Linked DNA regions of Homo sapiens. Changing the gene in region 7 together with the main gene of any one other region gives a genetic interaction. Each region holds a gene or a part of one and is shown on either strand. Other genes may lie near its edges. The genes, in order: FLT3LG, ANKRD52, EBNA1BP2, PIN1, P4HA1, ATP5PF and RB1.

Evidence for each region.
Region 1: changes in RB1 (region 7) and FLT3LG together harm fitness more than expected from each alone (negative genetic interaction), as found in Homo sapiens cells (one large-scale study listed by BioGRID).
Region 2: changes in RB1 (region 7) and ANKRD52 together harm fitness more than expected from each alone (negative genetic interaction), as found in Homo sapiens cells (one large-scale study listed by BioGRID).
Region 3: changes in RB1 (region 7) and EBNA1BP2 together harm fitness more than expected from each alone (negative genetic interaction), as found in Homo sapiens cells (one large-scale study listed by BioGRID).
Region 4: changes in RB1 (region 7) and PIN1 together harm fitness more than expected from each alone (negative genetic interaction), as found in Homo sapiens cells (one large-scale study listed by BioGRID).
Region 5: changes in RB1 (region 7) and P4HA1 together harm fitness more than expected from each alone (negative genetic interaction), as found in Homo sapiens cells (one large-scale study listed by BioGRID).
Region 6: changes in RB1 (region 7) and ATP5PF together harm fitness more than expected from each alone (negative genetic interaction), as found in Homo sapiens cells (one large-scale study listed by BioGRID).

The regions. Positions count from the first base shown.
Region 1 is NC_000019.10:49,480,715-49,484,214, forward strand, and holds part of FLT3LG (fms-related tyrosine kinase 3 ligand isoform 1 precursor), read left to right. Parts: intron 1-1,160; exon of another isoform or gene 1,161-1,163; coding exon of another isoform or gene 1,164-1,164; exon of another isoform or gene 1,165-1,202; intron 1,203-3,500. UniProt on the Homo sapiens protein: Stimulates the proliferation of early hematopoietic cells by activating FLT3. Synergizes well with a number of other colony stimulating factors and interleukins. Required for the development of B cells, and dendritic cells (DCs).
Region 2 is NC_000012.12:56,244,885-56,248,384, reverse strand, and holds part of ANKRD52 (serine/threonine-protein phosphatase 6 regulatory ankyrin repeat subunit C), read left to right. Parts: intron 1-160; coding exon 161-362; intron 363-610; coding exon 611-698; intron 699-774; coding exon 775-892; intron 893-2,788; coding exon 2,789-3,008; intron 3,009-3,194; coding exon 3,195-3,282; intron 3,283-3,395; coding exon 3,396-3,479; intron 3,480-3,500. UniProt on the Homo sapiens protein: Putative regulatory subunit of protein phosphatase 6 (PP6) that may be involved in the recognition of phosphoprotein substrates.
Region 3 is NC_000001.11:43,163,684-43,166,487, forward strand, and holds the end of EBNA1BP2 (probable rRNA-processing protein EBP2), read right to left. Parts: intron 1,123-2,804; coding exon 960-1,122; intron 811-959; coding exon 760-810; 3' UTR 501-759; downstream 1-500. UniProt on the Homo sapiens protein: Required for the processing of the 27S pre-rRNA.
Region 4 is NC_000019.10:9,841,818-9,845,317, reverse strand, and holds part of PIN1 (peptidyl-prolyl cis-trans isomerase NIMA-interacting 1), read right to left. Parts: intron 1-3,500. UniProt on the Homo sapiens protein: Peptidyl-prolyl cis/trans isomerase (PPIase) that binds to and isomerizes specific phosphorylated Ser/Thr-Pro (pSer/Thr-Pro) motifs.
Region 5 is NC_000010.11:73,090,367-73,093,866, reverse strand, and holds part of P4HA1 (prolyl 4-hydroxylase subunit alpha-1 isoform 2 precursor), read left to right. Parts: intron 1-3,500. UniProt on the Homo sapiens protein: Catalyzes the post-translational formation of 4-hydroxyproline in -Xaa-Pro-Gly- sequences in collagens and other proteins.
Region 6 is NC_000021.9:25,728,405-25,731,904, forward strand, and holds part of ATP5PF (ATP synthase peripheral stalk subunit F6, mitochondrial isoform a precursor), read right to left. Parts: intron 1,398-3,500; coding exon of another isoform or gene 1,391-1,397; coding exon 1,227-1,390; intron 1-1,226. UniProt on the Homo sapiens protein: Subunit F6, of the mitochondrial membrane ATP synthase complex (F(1)F(0) ATP synthase or Complex V) that produces ATP from ADP in the presence of a proton gradient across the membrane which is generated by electron transport complexes of the respiratory chain.
Region 7 is NC_000013.11:48,478,251-48,481,750, reverse strand, and holds part of RB1 (retinoblastoma-associated protein), read right to left. Parts: intron 1,773-3,500; coding exon of another isoform or gene 1,754-1,772; coding exon 1,680-1,753; 3' UTR 1-1,679. UniProt on the Homo sapiens protein: Tumor suppressor that is a key regulator of the G1/S transition of the cell cycle. The hypophosphorylated form binds transcription regulators of the E2F family, preventing transcription of E2F-responsive genes.

The DNA.
Region 1 (3,500 bases), on a different chromosome or scaffold from region 7:
CAGGGGCAGCTCTAGGTGCAGAAAGACCCCTCTGGGGCCAGGCGCGGTGGCTCACGCCTGTAATCCCAGCACTTTGGGAGGCCGAGGCGGGTGGATCACTTGAGGTCAGGAGTTCAAGACCAGCCTGGCCAACATGGCAAACCCCAGTCTCTACTAAAAATACAAAAATTAACTGGGCATAGTGGTGTGTGCCTGTAATCCCAGCTACTCAGGAGGCTGAGGAAGGAGAATTGCTTGAACCCAGGAGGCGGAGGTTGCAGTGAGCCGAGATTGCGCCACTGGACTCCAGCCTGAGTGACAGAGCTAGACTCCGTCTCAAAAAAAAAAAAAAAAAAGAAAAGGAAAGACCCCTCTGGGGCCACGGAGACAGACTGGAGACCAAGCCGGAGGCTGTGGGAAGGCCCAGGGTGAGGACCATGACTGAGCCAGGGCTGGGACCATGGGATGGAGTGGAGTGGATGGGCAGAGAGTCAGGGGTCAGAGATCAGGAGGGACCGGCCTGGGGCCTGACAGGCTTGAGTTGGCACAGATAGCCCTGGTCCAGTGATGGGGTGGACAGGGGGGAACCTGGGGGAGGAGTCAGATTAGGGAAAGACATGGAGCTCACTGGGGACCTGAAGGAGCAAGGGGCCCTGGGGAGATCTGTGGATGTGGGAGTTTGCAAGCCTCCTGGGACAGGAAGGAAATGGCATTCCAGAAAGAGGGAACTGCCTTTGGAAGCCCTTTGGTATGAGAAAGCTCAGGGTGTTCCAGTAACTTGGGCCAGCGTGGGGCAGCAAGGAGCCATGGGAGGTGTGAGAGGGAGGAAAGGAGCTGGGAACAGGTGTGGAGGGTGCAGGCAGGTAGGCAGGTGGGCCAGGAGGGAAGAAGGAGGGGAGGCCCCAGCGGGTCCCCTAACATTTCAAATCTAACATTTTGTAGTAATTGCTCGCACATATAGTGCCTTGGTAATGCAGGCCTCATGTGGGGCTGGCTTGCTTGCTTTATTTTTTTTTGAGATGGACTCTCACTCTGTCACCCAGGCTGGAGTGCAGTGGCGGGATCTTGGCTCACTGCAACCTCCACCTCCCAGGTTCAAGCAATTCTCCTGCCTCAGCCTCCCAAGTAGCTGGGATTACAGGCGCCCGCCACCATGCCTGGCTAATTTTTTGTATTTTTAGTAGAGATGGGGTTTCGCCATGTTGGCCAGGCTGGTCTCAAACTCCTGATCTCAGCTGATCCGCCCGCCTCAGCCTCCCAAAGTGCTGGGATGACAGGTGTGAGCCACTGTTCCTGGCCCATGCTGGGCTTTCCACAAATGAACTCACTTCCTTGAGAAGTTCGTGCCATTATGATCCCAAGGCATAGAGAGGTAAATAATTTGCCAAAAGTCACACAGCTCAAGGGTGACAACCAAGATTTGACTTCAGGTTGTCTTTTTTTTTTTTTTGAGATGGAGTCTTGCTCTGTCGCCCAGGCTGTAGTGCAGTGGCATGATCTCGGCTCACTGCAGCCCCCGCCTCCCAGGTTCAAGTGATTCTCCTGCCTCAGCCTCTGGAGTAGCTGGGATTACAGGTACCCACCACCACACTCGGCTAATTTTTGTATTTGTAGTAGAGACGGGGTTTCACCATGTTGGCCAGGCTGGTCTCGAACTCCTGACCTTAGCTGATCCGCCCGCCTCAGCCTCCCAAAGTGCTGGGATTACAGGCATGAGCCACCACGCCCGGCCTCGAGTTTGTCTTGATCCAGCATCTGTGCCCTTCACTCTGCTGCCTCAGTTTCCTGATCTGTACAAAAGGCTCTAATAATAGTCCTTCCACCATAGGGTTGTTATGGGGTGAAGTGAAGTGACACAGGCAAGGCTCTTAGAGCAACGCAGTGGAAACGGCATGTGAGCCACCTGTGCGATTTTCACTTTCCTGGTAGCCACATTTTTTTTTTTTTTTTCCTGAGATGGAGTCTCACTCTGTCGCCAGGTTGAAGTGCAGTGGTGTGATCTCAGCTCACTGCAACCTCCACCTCCCGGGTTCAAGCGATTCTCCTGCTTCAGTCTACCGAGTAGCTGGGATTACAGGCACGCGCCATCACGCCCGGCTAATTTTTTGTGTTTTTAGTAGAGACAAGGTTTCACCATGTTGGTCAGGCTGGTCTCGAACTCCTGACCTCATGATCCACCCGCCTCAGCCTCCCAAAGTGCTGGGATTACAGGCGTGAGCCACCGCGCCCGGGGTCACAGTTTTTAAAAAAGGAAAAAGAAGCAGGTAACTTTATTTTATGCAGTATATCCAAAATGTTGTTATTTCAACATGTAATCAGTATTTCTCAATGATTAATGAGACATTAATCAGTTGGAATCATTCATCATTTTGGGATATTTTACATTCTTTTGTCATACTAAGCCTTCAGCATCCAACGTATAGTTTATTTATTTATTTATTTTTCCTTTTGAGATGGATTCTCGCTCTGTCACCCAGGCTGGAGTGCAGTGGCGCGATCTCAGCTCACTGCAACCTCGGACTCCCTGGTTCAGGCGATTCTCCTGCCTCAGCCTCCCGAGTACCTGGGATTACGCCACCACACCCAGCTAATTTTTGTACTTTTAGTAGAGACCGGGTTTCACCATGTTGGCCAGGATGATCTCCATCCCCTGACCTCGTGATCCGCCCGCCTCAGCCTCCCAAAGTGCTGGATTACAAGTGTAAGCCACCGCGCCCAGCCCAGACAATAAATTTTTATCAGAAATGCTTCATCTATATTTAAATTTCATGAAATTTACAGTTGCCAAAAGTAGACTCACATAGTCAAGTTGTTCAAAACATACATTAAACCAGCCTGGGCCACATGGTGAAACCCCATCTCTACAAAAAATTTTAAAAAGTAGCTGGGTGTGGTGGCACATGCCTGCAGTCCCAGCTACTTAGGAGGCAAAGTAGGAGGATTGCTTGAGCCCAGGAGGTCGAGGCTGCAGTGAGCCCTGATTGTGCCACTGCACTCCAGCCTGGGTGAGAGAGCAAGACCCTGTCTCAAAAACAAAAAAACCACACAGAAGAGTTTAGAATCCCAGTTGCTATCTCTGGGAATCATCATGATTGCTAAGACCGGTATCTATCCAACAACAACAAAAATAATTAGTGCACTCCAGCCTGGGCAATAGAGGGAGACTCTGTCTCAAAAAAAAAAAAAAAAAAAAAAAAAAGATCAAAGACCAGTATCTAAATTGCTCTGTCGCCCAGGGTGGAGTGCAGTGGCACGATCTCGGCTCACTGCAACCTCCGCCTCCCGGGTTCAAGTGATTCTCCTGCCTCAGCCTCCCCAGTAGCTTGGACTACAGGCGCGTGCCACCACACCCAGCTAATTTTTGTATTTTTAGTAGAGGTAGGGTTTCACTATGTTTGCCAGGATTGTCTCGATCTCTTGACCTCGTGATCTGCCCGCCTCAGCCTCCCAAAGTGCTGGGATTATAGGCGTGAGCCACCACGCCCAGCCTATCTTTTTTTTTTTTTTTAAGAAAAGGTAAT
Region 2 (3,500 bases), on a different chromosome or scaffold from region 7:
AGGGGATAAGCACAGTGCAGGGTAGGAAGCCTTAAGGGGCCCAAGGAGCTTGTCAAGGACTAAGACCTTGAGCTTCCCAGGGACCCCAAGAGCAGAGAAGGGGAAGGGAGGAGCAGGGAAGGTCCCGAGCTGTGTGCACTGGTTGCCTGCACCTTGCCAGGCCTACAACGGTCACTGTGAAGCCTTGAAGACGCTGGCGGAGACGCTGGTGAATCTGGACGTAAGGGACCACAAGGGCCGGACCGCACTCTTCCTGGCCACGGAGCGCGGCTCTACTGAGTGTGTGGAGGTGCTTACAGCCCACGGCGCCTCTGCCCTCATCAAGGAGCGCAAGCGCAAGTGGACACCCCTGCACGCTGCTGGTTAGTGCCCACTTTAGGCTGCTGCCCTACCCTTGCCATGCCAGATCCCTCCTGGATGGGAATGGGGCTGGAAAGTGGAGTAGGGTGAGGAGAATGGAGACTTCAAGCCCTGATTCATAGCTTCCTATCCTCAGAGATTTCTCCCTGGCCCAGGTCTTTCTGTAACATTGACCCCAAGTCCTTTAGGCTTGACCTTGCCTCCCTTCTTCCTCCTGGCCCTGCCCTGACACGGGGTCCCTTTCCCCTAGCTGCCTCTGGCCACACTGACTCCCTGCACTTGCTGATCGACAGTGGGGAACGAGCTGACATCACAGATGTCATGGATGCCTATGGACAGTGAGTGTGGGCCAGGGTGGGGTGCAGGTTTTCCAGTCCTTGCGGGATCCTCACTCCTCCTCCTGCCCTTCTGTAGGACCCCACTGATGCTGGCCATCATGAATGGCCATGTGGACTGTGTACATCTGCTGCTAGAGAAAGGATCCACAGCTGATGCTGCTGACCTCCGGGGCCGCACTGCCCTCCACCGCGGGGTGAGTGAGCTTCTAGGGGGGATTGTTTGCACATGGGCCTCAGTGTGGGAGCATGGGACTCACCAGCAGTAGGGAATCCAATTGTCTAGGAGGCAAGCCAGGATTTTGTGCCGTCTTTTTTCTTTTTCTTTTTTTTTTTTTTTTTTGAGACAGGGTCTCACTCCCATTGCCCAGGTTGGAGTGCAGTGACACTATCACAGCTCACTGCAGCCTTGACTTCCTGGGCTCAGGTGATTCTCGCACCTCAGCCTCCTAAGTAGCTGAAACTGTAGGCACATGCCATCATGCCCAGCTAATTTTTGTATTTTTTGTAGATATGGGGGTCTTACCATCTTGCCCAAGCTGGTCTTGAACTCCTGGGTTCAAGTGATCCCCCCACCTTGGCCTCCCGAAGTGCTGGGATTACAGGCATGAGCCACCAGACCCACGCTGTGCCCAGGATTTTATTGAGCTTTGTGCTTGCTCCAGGATGAGTTCCTGACGTCCCCAGCTGATTTCCCTGATATCTGTGCTTTGTTTATTATTATTATTATTATTATTATTATTATTATTATTATTATTATTATTATTATTGAGATAGAGTCTCGCTCTGTCACCCAGGCTGGAGTGCAGTGGCGTGATCTCGGCTCACTGCAACCTCCGCCTCCTGGGTTCAAGCAATTCTCCTGCCTCAGCCTCCCGAGTAGCTGGGATTACAGGCGCCTGCCACCACGCCTGGCTAATTTTTGTATTTTTAGTAGAGACAGGGTTTCACCGTGTTAGCCAGGGTAGTCTCAATCTCCTGATGATGAGATCCACCCGCCTTGGCCTCCCAAAGGGTTGGGATTACAGGCGTGAGCCACTGTGCCTGGCCAATATCTGTGCTTTGTAATCACGTACAACTGAGTGCTCACCACCCAGACTCTACCTGGGATACCCTGCTGGCCCCAACCCATCGCATAATGTCGCCACAACCTAGATCCTCTTCCGTGACCACCTGTCCTAAGCTGCCTCCTCCTCCCATAAGATTTTTTGATCCCTTAGTCTCCTTCTCTCCATTTAGTCTTTCCAGTATTAACTCCAGAGCTCCAGTATTAACTCTTAGTATCCTGATTGTCTGCTGGCATAGAGAGAGTCAAGGAGGGAGATGTGGGTCCCTAATACTTAGAATTGTTGTTGTAAAGGGCCGGGCATGGTGGCTCACGTCTGTAATCCCAGCACTTTGGAAGGCCAAGGCGGGCAGATCACCTGAAGTCAGGAGTTTGAGACCAGCCTGGCCAACATGGTGAAACTTCGCCTCTACTAAAAATACAAAAATTAATTGGGCATGGTGGTGCATGCCTATAATCCCAGCTACTTGGGAGGCTGAGACAGGAGAATTGCTGGAACCTGGGAGGCAGAGGTTGCAGTGAGCCAAGATCGCACCATTGCACTCCAGCCTGGGTGACAGAGTGAGACTCCGTCTCAAAAAAAGAAAGAATTATTGTTGTAAAGACAAGGATTGAGGCCAGTGGCTCATGCCTGTAATCCCAGCACTTTGGGAGGCCGAGGCAGGCGGATCACGAGGTGAGGAGATCAAGACCATCCTGGCTAACGTGGTGAAACCCTGTCTCTACTAAAAATACAAAAAAATTGGCCGGGCATGGTGGCACCTGCCTGTAATCCCAGCTACTTGGGAGGCTGAGGCAGGAGAATCGCTTGAACCGGGGAGGCAGAGGTTGCAGTGAGCCGAGATTATGCCACTGCACTCCAGCCTGGGCGACAGAGCAAGACTCCGACTCCAAAAAAAAAAAAAAAAAAAAAAAGACAAGGATTGGAGCCCTGGAAGTGGTTCTTACTCCTGAGCCAGACTCCAGCAACAGGCCAGTGGAAAAGGAGGAGCTTTTCATCCCCCTCACACCCCCATGTTACTCACAGGCAGTGACTGGCTGTGAGGACTGCCTGGCTGCCCTGCTGGACCACGACGCATTTGTGCTGTGCCGAGACTTTAAGGGCCGCACGCCCATTCACCTGGCCTCAGCCTGTGGCCACACTGCAGTACTGCGGACCCTGCTGCAGGCTGCCCTTTCCACAGATCCCCTGGATGCCGGGGTGGATTACAGCGGATACTCGCCCATGCACTGGGCCTCCTACACTGGTACTAGACTGGGGCCTCCACAGGCACAGGAGCATGTGTTGGAGTGTGTGTAGAGGGGGACAGGTGGGTTGTTGGGGGGGACCTGGGTTGATCTGAATCTGGAAGTGGAATGGAGTGTCAAGACACAGGACAGACAGGGAACCTTGCCGTTTTTCTCCATCACTACTCTTCCTTCCTCGTGCCCAGGACATGAAGATTGTCTGGAGTTGTTACTTGAACACAGCCCGTTTTCGTACCTGGAAGGAAACCCCTTCACTCCTTTGCACTGTGCAGTGTAAGTCCCTTCTGCTGCATCAGCCCTTCTCGCGAGGGCCCATGACTTGAGCTTAGGACAGGTAGTCTACTTCCCTTGTCCTTCCTGATGACCCCTCCTCCCTCTTCCTCTAGGATTAATAACCAAGACAGCACCACAGAGATGCTACTGGGAGCTCTGGGTGCCAAGATTGTGAACAGCCGAGATGCCAAAGGACGGTGAGTGATGGAAGACTTGGG
Region 3 (2,804 bases), on a different chromosome or scaffold from region 7:
AATAAAACTTAAAAACAGTGCCTGCGAAATTCTAAAATTCTAAGGAGGAAATTCCTATCAGCCCAAATTAAAGGCAATTTCAGAAATGCAAGGAGATAAAAAGTTTACCTCTCATCTTCCCTTTCTTAGTAAGATACCAAAAAATGGTACACAGCAAAAGAAGGCATATGCTAAGATGGGAAAACATGGGATTCTGGAAATAATGGTGCCAACTTAAACGGTCTAGAAAAAAGGTGACAGTTGTGTGGCATAACTAGGTTGTAGGAGAAAAATTATAAAGTGGGTAAAATGACAAAGCATCTGGAAAGAACTAAGAATATAGAAGGAAAATTAGGCAAGCAGAAGAATGTAAGGTGAAGGTTAACTGGAGGAAAAACCAAAAGCTGTACCACAAAGAAAATCACGGTGGCTCACACCTGTAAAATATGGGCATTGAGCTTTACAGGGATTGATCGTAATATAACTATTTAGAAGGATGAGACAAAGGAAATGAGAAGGTGTCAGTTAAATCATTATTTATCATAAAATGAAGGCAATTTGAACTCAATGTCTAAATTATCAATAGATAGCAATGGAAAGTAACTTCTCAATCTTTTAGTCTAGACTATTTAACCAAAGGTATGTGTTCCTTTAATAATTTTTCTTTAGTTTATTGAAAGAAATGTTTACAACATGACACCAACAGAAGGGATCAAAGTGTGTCGTGAAATTGCGAGTCTTCATTCCTTTTTCTTGGTTCTTTGTATTCAAAGATGCTATTTAGTGTGTTCTGTTCTTCATCTTCTCTCTTGTTCGTTTTCCAGGTCTCTTCTACAGAAAAAGACATACCACATCTGGTCACATAGCAGCTTGCCTTCTGCCCCAGGGTGAGGACGAACAGAACTGAAGGGAGAGGGCAGGGTTGGGAGTGGGAGGGGAGGCTGAGCCTGCTCCTCACCCGGGCACCTGGGCTCACTTACATTTGACCCTTTCTTGCCAGGCCTCTTGAGGCCTCTGCCATGAGCTGTCTTGGCCCGGAAGCTAGATACATCATCATAGCTCTCCCGAGTGTTCCACTTTGAGCCTTTCTTCTTTCCACCAAAACCAAACTTCTGGTTTTTATACCGTCGTTTAGCACTGGGCCTGGAAAAGAATGGTCCTAGACATCACTACAGCACTGTAAAGCCTGATGAACCTGATGGCCCAGCAATGCTCTCAGTTTCCTTTCTATAAGCAAAGCCCCTTAGGCACGTCTGTAACCCAGAATCTCATCCTTGGCCCCACAATCCTATGCTACAGCCTCTCTAGACAAACTCATCTAGCTCACCTATTTACAGTTTTGACCACCAGGGCAGGAAAATAAAGCAAGAAGCAGGGAAGGCTCTACATATATTACATGGCTTCCTGCTGTCTTTAGAAAGCTTTCTATTTTAACCAAATCTTATTAAATCACCCTCAGTTGTGTCTATTCCTCTCAAGGGTAAATACATGCAGTTAACATCCAAATGTAATATGTTACATTTGTAACATTCAAATGTAATGTAATGAATACGTTCAAATGTAAACATTCAAATGTAATTATAGGCATTCAAATAACATTCAAATGGAATAACATTCAAATGTAAAACTGGTCATCCAATAGGAATCTTGAATTCAGCATCTCCAAATTCACATCATCTCCTGGACTGGCTCTGCTTCCTGTACATATGCCCTCACTTGAGGCTGGCGCTGCTCCCACCAACCCAGACACACAGGCTAAACATGTGGGAGTCAGCCTTGGTTCTTCTCTCACTCTTTATACCCAATTCAATTACTGAGTCCTGCTCATTTCACCTCTTAAATGTTTCTTCAATCCTTATCTCGACTTTTGCAATAGTACCCTTGTCAATTTCCCAGCTTCCCTCAAGTCTGTCACTTATACAAAATCCACTGTGATCTTTTTAAAAACATGAATATAACCTGCTCATTACTGTTAGTACAACCTACAACCTAGTCTCTCCACTGCCTTCTGACAAAGCCCAAGCTCCTCAACAAGGCAAACCCACAGCCCAGGTCCCCCCAAACACATTGCACCCCTCCTTGCTTTGCACTGTATTCCCAGTGACACCAAGGGCTTACTGTTCCTCACAAAACCCTGAGGTTTCACATCTCGATGGCTTTGCTCGTTCAAGCTCTTACTTCTTCCCAAACCCAGCTTCTCTTCTATTCTCGTGGTTAATTCCTACTCATGCTTCAAGCAATGCTCAAGTCGAACGCTCCTCCAGAAATCCACCCCAGACCCTGTCAGGTATTTATAAAAGCTGACTCAGTACTAATCCCCAAATGCCTCTATCATAGCACTTACTATCTTACATGGAAATTATCATTTCCCCTAGGCCTGGTATCCAGGTATGCAAAAAAGCAGACTAGAAAAAACAATGAGAGCCCACATTCTCTCTTTCAGTCTTCATACTATGAGGCAGACACTATTTCCTCAACTTAGCAGATGAGGCAATTAGCATTTAGAAAGGCATGGTAACTCGTTCAAAACTGCCCTCCTACTGAGTGGTAGAGTCGGGATCTGAACCCTAGGTCTGAACTCTCAACCATCGCACTGTGTGATGGGGAATCAACTTTACTCAGCATTCACTTAAAGGGTGCCACATACTTAAAAGTACCTTCTTAGGATGGGTGCAGTGGTTCACACCTATAATCCCAGCACTTTGGGAGGCTGAGGTGAGTGAATCACTTGAGGCCAGGAGTTCACAACCAGCCTGGCCAACATGGTGAAACCCTGTCTCTACTACAAATACAAAAATTAGCTGGGTGTGATGGCAGGCACCTGT
Region 4 (3,500 bases), on a different chromosome or scaffold from region 7:
GCACTCCAGCGTGGGCAACAAGAGCGAAACTCCATTTCAAACAAACAAACAAACAAACAAACAAACAAACAAAAACGCTTTCTTCCTGAGTTCCTGCTCTGTGAGGCTGACCTTGAGGGGTTTGGTCCTGTGTGTCTTGTTAGCTCAGCCTGTACCTGACCCCGCGACAATGACATCCTCCGACTCCCACCTCGCAGACCTTGGTTTAAGCCTCTTGTCCTGCCTGAAACTCATCAGCTATCCTCTGGTCTCCCCAAGAAGCCTCCCCTAATCCCCCACTGTGTTAGGTGCCTCCCCCTGGGTGCTGCATTTACTACCGTCCCATTGGTGTGTTGCTTGCCCGCCTCACAGTGCAGGAATGGAGGCTGCTGGGTTGGCCTTCTTCATTGCTGCACCCTCAGAACCCAGCACTGTGCACAAAACAGGTGTTCACGAATGTTCAAGAAGTTAATGAATAAATGAGACAGAAATAGGCCATGGGGAAGGAGGGAGACAGGGATCTACCACGGGGCTCGAAGCAGAAATGCTGGAATCTCATGCCCTATCTGCCTGAAACTCAGGCTGCGACCCTAAGGCCAGACTTCCTGGGCCTCCTCCAAGACAATGTGTCAGCCTTGCCCGACGGCGCCAAAACCTGTGAAATTTGATGGGGACTGTCGGGTGCTGGAGCCCCATCCTGATTCGATGTGGCTCCAGCTTAGAACCACACAGACACAGGGTGGCCTCTCCAGGAGCTCCCAGTCTGGAGCAGGGGCCTCCACCTGCTTCAAGGTGTTCAGGACCCCCTGAAATAGTATGCAAAACAGAATGGCACCTATCTGTGCTGGCAGACCCCAGCCAGCCTGCTCACAGTGTATCCCCAAGGTCCAGGAGGACATGTTATGGGTGCTGACTCCAGACTCCATCAGGTCCAGATCCTACCTCTGCTGCTCCTGAACAATGAGAGTCTGGCAGGTGACTTTACCTCTTGGAGCCTCACTCAACTGGCCTGTAAAATGGGGTAACCGCTGCTCCCACGTTGGAGCCTGTTCCAAGGAGTGAATCAGTGACCGCTTAAGCAGTGGCTGTTGCAGAGCAGGCCCCTGACAGATCCAAGCTGCCCATCCGTTATGGACTCAATGTTTGTGTCACCCCAAATTCATGTGTTAAAGCCCTAACCTCCAGTGTGGCTGCATCTGGAGATGGGGACTTTGGGGAAGTAACTAGGGTTAAATGAGGTCATAAGGGTGGGGCCCTGATCCAACAGGATTAGCGCCCCTTTTTTTTTTGAGGCAGAATCTGGCTCTGTCACCCAGGCTGGAGTGCAGTGGTACAATCTCGGCTCACTGTGACCTCTGCCTCCCAGGTTCCAGCGATCCTCCTGCCTCAGCCTCCTGAGTAGCTGGGATCACAGGTGTGCGCCACTACATCTGGCTTTTTTTTTAGTATTTTTAGTAGAGATGGAGTTTTACCATGTTGGCCAGGCTGGTCTTGAATTCCTGACCTCAGGTGATCCACCCACCTCAGTCTCCCAAAGTGCTGGGATTACAGGCATGAGCCACTGCGCCTGGCCAGGATTAGTGTCCTTATAAGAGACACCAGAGAGCTCGTGCTCCTTCACTCCGTGCACATGCGCCTGGGGAATGCCATGTGAGTGCACAGTGAGAGGGCAGCCGTCTACAAGCCAGGAAGTGGGTTCTCGCCAGGAACAGAATCTGAGGGAACCTGGATTGTGGACTTCTGGCCTCCAGAACTGTGGAAAGTGATGACTGTTGTTTAAGCCACACTGTCTGTGATATTTTGTTACAACAGTCCAAGCTAATGCACATCAGTGACCTAGGTGGGAGTGAGGGAACAAATGGGGTAGTCCTTGACCCCAAAAATGTTTCAAGACGTGCTGTCTCCTCTGCCTTGCCAGATCATTACGCTGCTTCCAGCATACTTCCCCCAGGCTGCCCAGGCACCAGAGGGGAAGGGGCCTGGTCGGGGAAAGAGGTGACAGGGTCAGATCTGAGAAGACCAAGATCCAGAAGGAGGGGCTAGAGGCTGGCCCAAGGCCAGCAGGCTGGAAGGGCGCCAGTGACCTTGAGGACCCCAGGACAAAGGGGCTGACCTGGATGCTGGGATGGGTATGTGAGTAGGACAGCTGCTCATAGTCTCAGCCTTGCTGGGACCCTCCAGGCCCTGGGCATGTGAGGGGTGGCTGTCAACAGATCTGGGTGGAGAGCGGGCAGGGAGGGCTTCTCCATGGCCCATCCTCCTTAGACAAGGACACTGGCAATGACTCCCTTGGATCTCTGACAGCCTCTGGCTGTGGCCCAGCAGCTGCAGAGGAGCCAATGCTGGGAAAAGGAGCCTCAGCAGAAAATGTGGAGGTCCCGGCTCTCTCTGCAGGCAGCCTGTCCCTTCGGGGCAAGGGCGGAGCACCAGATCTAAATGGGCACTGATGAGATTTAGCCCGGCTGCCAGCTGGGGAGTGAGCTGCCCAAATCATGGTCTCCTGATCACCCGGCATGAACCCTCGAGGGGAGAACATCCACTTCATGGAAGAGAAAATGAGGCCCAGGTGCCCAATGCCTGCGCCGACACTGCACATGATGATCTGTTACCGAGTGTACCTCGGCCGGGGCCACCTCACTGCATCCTCCTATCGACCTCTGAGGAGATCTGCCCCAGCACCGTCTCAGGCAGGAGGATACCAGGAGAGGGAGGTCGTGTGCCAAGGTCATCATCTGTGTGCTGAGCCCACCAGGCCTCCTGTGGTCCTATCCGGAACTCTTTCTACGGGCTGTGGGGTGGCAGCAGGGGCTGCCCGTGAGCAGAGGCCTTGACTTGACCTCAGCTCCCCCATCGTCCACACCCCAATGACTGGGGCTGAGGCTCCACCGTGCAGAGCACGCCAGCCACTGAGCCCATAGCTCCTGGATCCTCATAGCCACCCTCTCCCCATTCTACAGATGAGGCAACTGAGGCTCAGGAAATGAAGACCACACAGCTGGCACTGAAATCCAGCCCTGTACGAGCCCAGGGTGGGCCACGCTGTTCTGCCCTGACCCTCCCCCAGACATCCCACCCTTGCCCACCTAATCCATCACCCAGTCCTCTCTATCCTGCCTCCTGAATCTCTCTCGGGTCTGCTCCCTCTCACTTCTTCTTCCACTTCCAGCCCCCAAGTTCAAGTCACACCGCCTCTTGCTCCAATTCCTCCCACAGCTTCCACCAGGTGGGCAGGCAAGGCTCCTGCTGACATTCCAGAATCTGCAGGTACCTACGGTGACGCCTCAGGGCCTGGCTACTTACCAGGTGCACCTGTCCAACCCAGAGATGGGCGAGACACCCTCGCCCACCACACCCAGACCCATGCCCTCCTCACTATCCCCACCGACCTCAGCCTTCTGCCAGCTCTCATCAGGATTGCTTGGAGCAGCTCTGTCCTGCGCCTGGCTGCTCTGCTGACCCCCAGGAGCCCACTTCATGCCGCTCCATCCCCAAATGCCTGCACCCTCCTGCTCACTCTTATA
Region 5 (3,500 bases), on a different chromosome or scaffold from region 7:
TTTTTTTTTTTTTTTTTTTTTTTTGAGATGGAGTTTCACTCTGCCACCCAGGCTGGAGTGCAGTGGTGCAATCTCGGCCCACTGCAAGCTCCACCTCCCGGGTTCACGCCATTCTCCTGCCTAAGCCTCCCGAGTAGCTGGGACTACAGCCGCCCACCATCACGCCCAGCTAATTTTTTGTATTTTTAGTAGAGACGGGGTTACACCGTGTTAACCAGGATGGTCTCGATCTCTTTACCTCGTGATCTGCCCGCCTTGGCCTCCCAAAGTGCTGGGATTACAGGTGTGATCACGCCACCGTGCCCGGCCAAAGCTTTGTGTTTCTATTCAAGAAAATTTATTTGTATAAATTGAAGCTGTCCTGTCATTAGGACAGCTTCAGTTTCTCTAGTTGAATAAGTATTGTACCTAAAGAAAAGCTTTGGCAATTCAAAAGGACTCTCATTTAGGTTACTCCAGCAGTTTTTAAACTCGGTGTGGTGAAAAACATTCTTTTTCCTGGTCTTCCTTTGGATGATCAGTATGACTGTTAGTATATTTGATTTGACATTTGCTAAAAATACATTATAGAGATTCAGACTTCTTACCTAGTTGTCATCAGTGAATGAGTTCTATATTGGGCCTTTCTCTTCCTCATGTTTAGTGTTTCATAAAAATGTGTCCATATTACTCATTTCTTTCTTAAATAGTAATATTATGTGGAATTAGTACACTCAGCCTTACTCTCTCTTTTTTTTTTTTTTTTAAGAGATAGGATCTTGCTCTGTTGCCCAGGATGGAGTGCAGTGGTGTGACCATAGCTCACTGCAGCCTTGAACTCCTGGGCTCAAGCAATCCTTCTGCCTCAGCCTCCGGGTGTAGCTCGGGGTACAGATGCATGCCACCATGTCTAGCTAATTTTTTAATTTTTTGTAGAGATGGGATCTTGCTCTGTTGACCAGGCTAGTCTCGAACTCCTGGCCTCAAGTGATTCTCCCATCTGCCCCACAAAGTGTTGGGATTATAGGTGTGAGCCACCATGCCTGGTCATCCTTACTCTCTTGTTGGACACTTGAGCTGTTTCTCCATTATAAGTAGTGCAAAGAGAGGACTGTAATTTAGTGGTTTATTTTATCAACCTGTATAATTACAGTAAACTTTAACCAATTTTTTAATTTTTAAATTTATATTTAAATTTTTTTTTTTTTAGAGACAGGGCCTTACTATGTTGCCCAGGCATGGTGGCTCACACCTGTAATCACAGCACTTTGGAAGGCCGAGGCAGGAGGATCACTTGAGGCCAGGAGTTCAAGACCAGCCTGGTCAGCATAGTGAGACCCCATCTCTCTACAAAAAAAATTTTTTTTTAATTAAGGGGGCATGAGGTTGCATGCATCTGTAGTCTAACTACTTGGGAGGCTGAGGTGGGAGGGTCGCTTGAGCCCAAGAGTTGGAAGCTGCAGTGAGCTATGATAGCACCATTGCACTCTAGCCTGGGTGAGAGTGCAAGACCCTGTCTCTAAAAAAAAAAAAAAAAAAAAGAAAAGAAAAAAAAATTATTTACAATATGGCCAGTAGACTGTAGGAAAATCAAGAATGATGAGAAATGTTTCATAGGAGAAGTAGGACATAAAAATTACATGATATAGCACCATGTGGCTAACATTTTACTAGATATTAAATCTGTAGCACTGAATGGAAATGCATATCTAGATTCACATCCTCTACAACCATGAATTCATTTTTCCCTGTTCTAGTATACATGGTCTTATTTTGTCTCTCTTTACCTCAACTTGAGAAATTTGGATCTGGCATTAGAGTAAACAGATAATTGAAGACTAGAAAGAGGTAGACTGGGTGGAAATAAAAGTGGAATTTTGACAGAATAGCCTTGGGAGGGATGAAGCTGAGTATACCTGGGCCTCAGAGCAATAATCCATTTTTTAGGAGGAAAGGGACTGCTAAAGCCAGCTTTTGAGTATTCTACTCTGACCTGAGTGGCCTTGGTCTGAATAGCTCATGTTCAGAGATAAGAGTATATTTAACTTTTTTGTACTAAGAATAGTATTTGAGTAATGTTATAGGTACATATGAGAATTTGGCCTTCATCTCTGCCGAGTCAGTTAAACACAAGTTTCTCTAGATATTTCCATTACAAGAATCAAAGCTCTTTGATTTTTGGAACTTCAGTAAAACCCAAGAATGAATAGCCGAGAACTATCATACAAGTCATAAAATTAAAAGGCATTGAACAGTGTATGAAGCATCAGATATCCTGTTACATGTGTCTGCAACAATAAATTAAATATTGATTAACTGATTTTAAGTAGGCTCAAGACTTCTCTTACAGTTCTAATCTTATATTAACTAGATTTGCATATCTAATTTCTCCAAAAATATGATCAAGAAATGTTTATTTTAGTCTAGGCGTGGTGGCTCACATCTGTAATCCCAGTGCTTTGGGAGGCTGAGGTGGGAAGATCTCTGGAGCCCAGGAGTTCAAGGCTGCTGTGAGCTCTGATTGTTCCACTCCACTCCAGCCTGGGTGACAGAGCCAGACCCTGTCTCAAAAAAACAAAAAAAGTTGGTATTTCTAAAACCTACTGGTTGAATTTAGGACCTCAAAATGTTACTTGTGTGTGTGACCTTTGTTCTTGCCCTATGGTTCTGACAACCTTCCTCCTTTTTATTTATTTATTTATTTATTTATTTATTTTTTTGGTAAACTCAGGCAACATATTCATAGTCAAAGGTTACATGAAGACATTCTCAAATTTACATGATTTCAAAATTTAGTTACTTCTTTTTTTTTTTTTTTTTTTTTTTTGAGATGGACTCTCACTCTGTCACCCAGGCTGGAGTGCAGTGGCGCAATCTCGGTTCACGGCAACCTCTGCCTCCTGGGTTCAAGCAATTCTCTGCCTCAGCCTCCCGAGTAGCTGGGATTACAGGCACCCGCCACCACGCCCGACTACTTTTTTGTATTTTTAGTAGAGACAGGGTGTCACCATCTTGGCCGGGCGGGTCTCGAACTCCTGACCGGGGGTGATCCATCAGCCTCGGCCTCCCAAAGTGCTGGGATTACAGGCATGAGCCACCGCACCTGGCCTGCAGTTACTTCCTTTAACCTCAAAGATATTTTGAAAATAGACCTCAATTTACTATGCCTGAATTTAAAAAACCTTAATATTGTATTTGAAAATAGTGAATAGTGACCATTGCCACCAAGTAGAGTGATAGTAATAAGTAAAACACTAATCTTTGATATAAGGGTGATTACTAATAAATTGAATAAACTGATATATTTTAACGACTTTATTGAGCAAAATTGACAGGACAAATTGCATATATTTACAGTGTACAATTTGATAAATTTGACAAAAATATCTACTTAAAAAAATATCAGTACAATCAAGATAAGGAACATATCCATCACCTTCAAGAGTATCCTCAAGGTCAGGCACAGTGGCTTAGGCCTGTAATCCCAACCCTTTGGGTGGCCGAGGCAGGAGGACTGCTTG
Region 6 (3,500 bases), on a different chromosome or scaffold from region 7:
CCATTCACCAAATATATTTTGTGCTTTCTAGCACAAACTAAGGCATTTTCATGCCTTAGTTCACACCATTCTTTCCTCCTAAAAGATACTCTCCTCTTACCCTCATTTATCTGTCCAACCTTCATACACTGATCTTTAAAACCTAGAGTAAACCCCTGGGTGTACAGGTCTACTGAAGGCCTCCTGTGGGTTTGAGAACTGTTTCATGCTATAAGGAAAATGATGTGAGTAAATTCTTCACGTTTTTTTCTTTAAACTGGGAAGATGATCCACAGTTGTCCATGAGATTCTCAAGAGGGATGAGTACCCAAACACTGCCTTCCAAGAAGCCTCTAAAATGCCTCTAGCTGGAAAGGAGTATTCTTTCCTATGAACTCCCCAAGCACCCAGCGTTTCCCTACCTTAGCACCTAACTCATTTTACCTTATATTGTATTTATTTGCTTAGAAGCTTTCTACTCCTATCGGACTTTAAGAATATTGTAAAAATGCCCTGTGGCCCATCACGGTTAATAGCCAAGTGCTTTACACACAGTAGACAACTATATGAAAGAAAATGGAACTATGAATTGGTGCGCCTCACTGTTCCTAAGATTTGGGTTTGGACCTGATGACAGCTAAGGTGGTCATTCCTTTCCAAAACTATGGTTCTACAATTGTTTTTCTTGGACTTACATTATGTCATTTCAGAGTCTTTTGTCCTTTAATATACATTCTCAGAGATCTGTAACTATGGAAATAGCCTTTTAAAAAAAAGAGCTGTGTTTATACATTTCCCCCAAATTACAATGTCACAGAAAGGCCACTAAATTGAGGCTAAAATATACTTTGATAATATATTTTTCCCCAATTAGTTTTATGATCTTCGGCTAATCAATGTCTAAGGGAGTTACTTTTTTCAAACTTAGCTGCTAAATGATTTCCAAGACCCTATGTATTTCTATAAATTGATGTGGTTTATAATACATGACATGACAGTAAGAATGTATTTTAAACAGCAATAAATTTAGTAGGATTTTCCCTTGTAACTCATATAAAGATACAGTTTCTGACTTAAAAAAATCAAGATCCTTATCTTCTTTTTTGAGGGCACCTAATGAACCTCTATGTCAGAGATGAGCTCAGTGAAGGTCTAATACTTTCAAATACCAAGTCATTTTTATTACCACCTTGAAACTTACATACTTTGAATATTTATATTTACACTGTAGTTATTTATTCACTTACTGTCGCTTAGATTTGTATTCTCTAATCTTGTCCACAAAGAGTTTCTGTATAGGATCAAGTTCCTTATTAAATGCCACTGCTGTAACACCAATGTTCCTCCGCAAATGGACTGAGACGGCTGACCGAATGACAGAGGAGAACCTGAAGAGCCTCTGAAGAATCATGCTGATTCTGTTACAGAAAACAAGCAGCAGAAACGTTAATATACTTATTATAAATCACCTCTAAATATATCATGAGAATCAAATTCTACTAATTGCTACAGAATTACATCATATCAGATCTCAGTCTATACCTGACCACAGTTCCCTTCTCCTCCTTATTCCCCATTGCAAGTTTTTTAGGTCTTAACCAAAAGGCTCTGGGATAATGGAACAGTTAGAAACTCAGGCCTGAAGCTTCATCAGGGTTAGAGCACAAAATGTGAGGTGAGGTATTTCTTCCCCCTTGAACTTAGTCATGGATCAGAGAAAACAGTAGAGGTAGACTGTTGCAACACTGTCCGCTCCTAACAGGAAAAGTACACTGGCCCCCAAACTAATGTACAAGGTTTCCCATACCTCAGCCGGGCATGACAACCTGAAAATGTGTACTTCACAGGCCCACAGAGGGAGAAACTGCTCTGCCTGTTACAAATGGATTCCAGCCATTTAAGAATACTGTAACAACTAAATCAAAGTCCAGAAGAACCAGCAAAGAAAAACAGCAGCCAGTCCAAATGAGCTGTGCATGACAGTGGGGAGGATCCGGCAGTCCAACTTTATCAGTGAAATAAATTGGTGAAGGAGATGGAAGTCTGAATTTTAAAAATAAGGACTTATGGCCAGGTGCAGTGGTTCACGCCTGTAATCCCAGCACTTTGGGAGGCTGAGGCTGGTGGATCACCTGAGGTTGGGAATTTGAGACCAGCCTGACCAACAAAAAGAAACCCTGTCTCTATTAAAAATACAAAAATTAGCTGGGCGTGGTGGCGCATGCCTGTAATCCCAGCTACTCAGGAGGCTGAGGCAGGAGAATTGCTTGAACCCAGGAGGCAGAGGATGCAGTGAGCCGAGATTGTGCCATTGCACTCCAGCCTGGGCAACAAGAGCAAGACTCCGTCTCACAAAAAAAAAAAAAAAAAAAAAAAAAAAAAAAAAAAAAAAGACTTAAAGACTTTCAAATCCCTAGACTTCCTTAAGCTAAAATATATTACTTTCTAACTAAAACATTTCAGTAGAGGACAATTCCTGTTGAGATTTACTTTAGTGATTTAAAGATCAAATGCAAAAAATAATCCAAATTACAACAAATAGGTACAAACAGGAATTCTAGAAGAAAAGGAATAAAGAGGGCCAGGCACGGTGGCTCATGTGTGTAATCCCAGCACTTCAGCCCGAGGCAGGTGGATCACTTGAGGTCAGAGGTTCGAGACCAGCCTGCCCAAAATGGTGAAACCCTGTCTCCACTAAACATACAAAAATAAGTCAGGCGTGCTAGCGCGTGCCTGTAATCCCAGTTATTTGGGAGGCTGAGGCAGGAGAATCACTTGAACTCAGGAGGCGGAGGCTGCAGTGAGCCCAGATCACACCACTGCACTCCAGCCTGGATGCAGGGCAAGACTCTGTCTCAAAAAGAAAAAAAAGGAAATGATTAAAAGAGACCATAAATAATTAGTAGAATACATTTTTCTCAGATTAAGGCCGAGTCTATAAACTGACAGGGCTTGCCAAACCCCATATTGGAACGGTGACAAAAGGCTCACAATGCACCACAGCCTGGTACAATTTCTCAATCTTTTTTTTTTTCAGACAGGGTCTCACTCTGTTGCCCAGAATGAACACGGCTCACTACAGCCTCAGCCTCCTGGACTCATGCAATCCTCCCACCTTAGCCTCCCAAGTAGATGGGAGCACAGTTGTGTGCCATCACACCAGGCTAATTTTTACTTTTTTTTTTTTTTTGTAGAGACGAGGTCTTGCCATATTGCCCTGGCTGGTAAAATTTCTGAATCTTCAAGTGAAAATCTGATATGCTAACATGTTTCCCATGCCCTCCCCAAATTTCCTAATAGCAATACTGTCATCATCACATTGACACCGGACTTCTACTAAGTTATAATAGGACTAGTGGAAGTATACAAACTATGTTATTGGTCTAAAGTAATATAGAAATTAGATATAAGTATTTAGAGGCCAGGCGAGGTGGCTCATGCCTGTAATCCCAGCACTTTGGGAGGCCGAGGAGGGAGGATTGTTTGAACTCAGGAGTTCAAGACCAGCCTGGGAAACATGG
Region 7 (3,500 bases):
AATCTCAATACACGATCTCTGAAGTTCCTAAAATTCTGGCACTAATTCTAATGTGAACTTAGTAGCAAAAGACCCAGAAATAGTAAGCCCTTGACCTAAAAACTAACTGATTTGTATGATATTCATGCAGAAACAATGATGAAATGGAGTCAAGTTTTCTAGTGTCATTGTTATCAAAATAACTGTCAAAATAGTAAGTTTGAAACTTAAATGAGCACAAAATAAAATTTTGTTTTCTAACAAGACCAGATTTCTTTTTAAAAATAATTCTGAGTTAGACAAAGTGATTTTCCTAAAAGCTAGCTGAAGCTACCTTAAATATCCCCTATTTTAAGTTACAGCATCTCTAAATAAGTTAATCACACAAGATAGTTTAAATACACCTTTAGGTGTAGGGGAGGGGAGAAGCGCCTCTTTTTCTAATGCAGCTGTTTTAATTTGAAGCTTTTGCACAAAATCAGATAGAAACATTAATGCCTAACCCATAATGACCCTTGATTACTTGTAATTTTGGACTAGAAATAATGTGGCTTTGAACATGCCAGTGTTAGACCATACTGACTTAAAAAAATAAAAGATAAATAGACAATTGCCAGTTCAAAAGATACATGGAAGACATGTACCATTCCAGAGAAAACACAAACCTTCCCAAATTAAGGAGGGCAGAATAATTTTGAGATGCAATTAGACAAATCTCTATGAAAAAAAAATTAAGGCTCCTATAATTAACAGTCTGTTTATGGAGTAAAATTAATTTGTATCTTAATTCTTCAGGACCCAGAAACATTAGAAAGTGCACTTGGGATATACTGTGTTAGGGTCCTCTATACCTAAGATCTGGCAGAACACTTTACTTTTTCAAGTACTAGATGGGTACTTTATAAATTCAGTGATCTGAATGGTATAAAAACCAAGAGTACTATCAATAATCCTCATTTAAAAACATAAGTTGGATGAAGAAAATAATCAGTAAGTTCTTTTACATTCTGAGGTATGAAATCTGTTTCAGTAGTATGATAGTATCATATGGTTATACTTTGCTTCCAGCTTTTATTTAATTAAAAGCAAAATTTTATAAAACAAGCACACAGTATATCAGATTCCAATAGTAAAATAAAATCTAATGTGTAAAATTAGTAATTTTTTTCTAATTTCTAATAATATCCATTTTTGCAGAAGAGTTCAGGATAATTTTGGTGAATGGGCAGTCAATCAAATTGCATTTGGAAGATAGATAGGACACATTTTCTAAGGGTGTTCATGTTAAATTAAAAAAATATACATATAAATTAATAAAAACAAGAGCAAACATCACCTATATGCTACAAAAGAAGGCAAAGTAGTCAGACAGGCCTGGGTTATCAGGACTCCCACTCTAGGGCCATTCTTACTATCCATAAAGCACAGCAATTTTACTTTGGAAGAGGAAACAATCTGCTACAACTTTTTAAATGGCAGGATTTACACAAGATTTTCAATCTTGTATAAATAACAATGACTAACATTTCAAGTGGCTTAGGAATCACCCAAACAATTGCATCTGCACATTTTATATCCACAAAAAGAGCTGAAGATATTAAATGTGGCCATAAACAGAACCTGGGAAAGTTATACAGTCACATCTGTGAGAGACAATGAATCCAGAGGTGTACACAGTGTCCACCAAGGTCCTGAGATCCTCATTTCTCTTCCTTGTTTGAGGTATCCATGCTATCATTCATTTTCTGCTTTTGCATTCGTGTTCGAGTAGAAGCTGGAAAAAGGATGAAGAACTGTTAACAGCATTGATGGTACTGGGTAAGTTGGCAAGTGGCTGCCATATATATTATGCTCATGTCAAACTGATGGCGCTCAGGACCTTGCAAAAGCAGTGGTCTTCATTCTAGTATTTGACAGTACCGTAGGGAGTTACAGTTAATTTACTGCATATTTCAAAATAGCTAGAATTGTAATGTTCCCAATGCAAAGAAAAATGTTTGAGGTGATATATATCCCAATAACCCTGATTTGATCATTACACATTGTGTACACGTATCAAAACATCACATGTACCCCTAAAATATGTATAACTATGATATATCAATTAAAAAAAAAATTCCCTCCCCACCCCCCAAAAAAACAGTGGTCTCCAAATCTTTAAAAATCATATATCCCTGTGAGTAAATTTTTTTCCAAGCCTGTACCACAAAAATACGTATGTATGTACAAATTATAAAACACATACCCCAAGCAAACATTAAAATGAGATAAATAGAACTTCTACTTTATGTACCCCAAAAGATGACTTTGCATACTTCAGGTATGCCCCATTTTGTAGGCCACTATTCTAGAGATGAGGTGGTTGATGCTTGGCATATACTTCAGCAGACTAGAATACTCGGCTGGCCCAGACTGAATCTGCCAGAGTGAGTGGTGGTATTCTTTACAAAGCTATAGGTTCCCTTATGTTTGCAGATGCCTTGCAGGTACTGCAAATACATCAAATCATAGCTCATTTAAACTGGGCATGGATTTTTTTTTTTTGAGACAAGGTCTTGCTCTGTTGCCCAAGCTGGAGTGCAGTGGCATGATCATGGCTCACTACAGCTTTGACCTTCTGGGCTCAAGCAATTCTCTCACCTCAGCCTCTCCAGTAGCCAAGACTACAGGCACATGCCACCAGGCCTGGCTAATTTTTGGATTTTTTTGTAAAGATGGGGTCTTGCTATGTTGCCCAGGCTGGTCTTGAACTCCTGGCCTCAAGCAATCCTCTCACCTTGCCCTCCCATAGTGCTGGTATTACAGACATAAGCCATCATGCCTACCCGGGGCATGGCCATGTTAAAAGCATATTATGAATTACAATATAGACAAAGCCGGGATACTTATTAAATTTCTTAAAAATTCTTAACTTGATTTTAGAGGTAGGCATGAGTTCTTTATAAAGAAGCACATTTGGAAAAATGGAATGCCCTTCCATTCTGGGCAATCCAGCATTGTATGATGATCTTTTCTAAATGTAATTCTTTAAGAAAAGCTGAAGAGCATCCTAAAGAAATGCCTTAGCCTCAGGGGTTAAAATTCTGCCTGCTTTGTCACAATTTTGTAGATGCACAAAGGTCCTGAACTTTGGCCTGGCAGAGGAAGCTCGCCATCATAGCTAAGTGTGTCACTGGGAAATGTACTAACTATAGCAACTGAACACTTCTCTAAGAAAATATACATGTTTTTACAGCTTTCAGCTCCTTTTTAAGTGCATATTTGTGGGTTCCAAAATGTTTCCATATGTCTTCAAGGCCTGATTTTGGTTATGAGCCTCTTGTCTATTTTCATGTACTGAGGGGAAAAGATGCAACTATTTAAGAGTTAAAATAGGAATATGTAAGTTGACATAAAATCCAAAAAGAGATTCATTTATAACTAGAAAATTTTGTTTTAGTTATTTAGTTTTAATTACACTTTAAAAAAATACATAGAAAAAAAGCATCCTTTTAAATATCTTATTTTCAAAGTTAGTATCT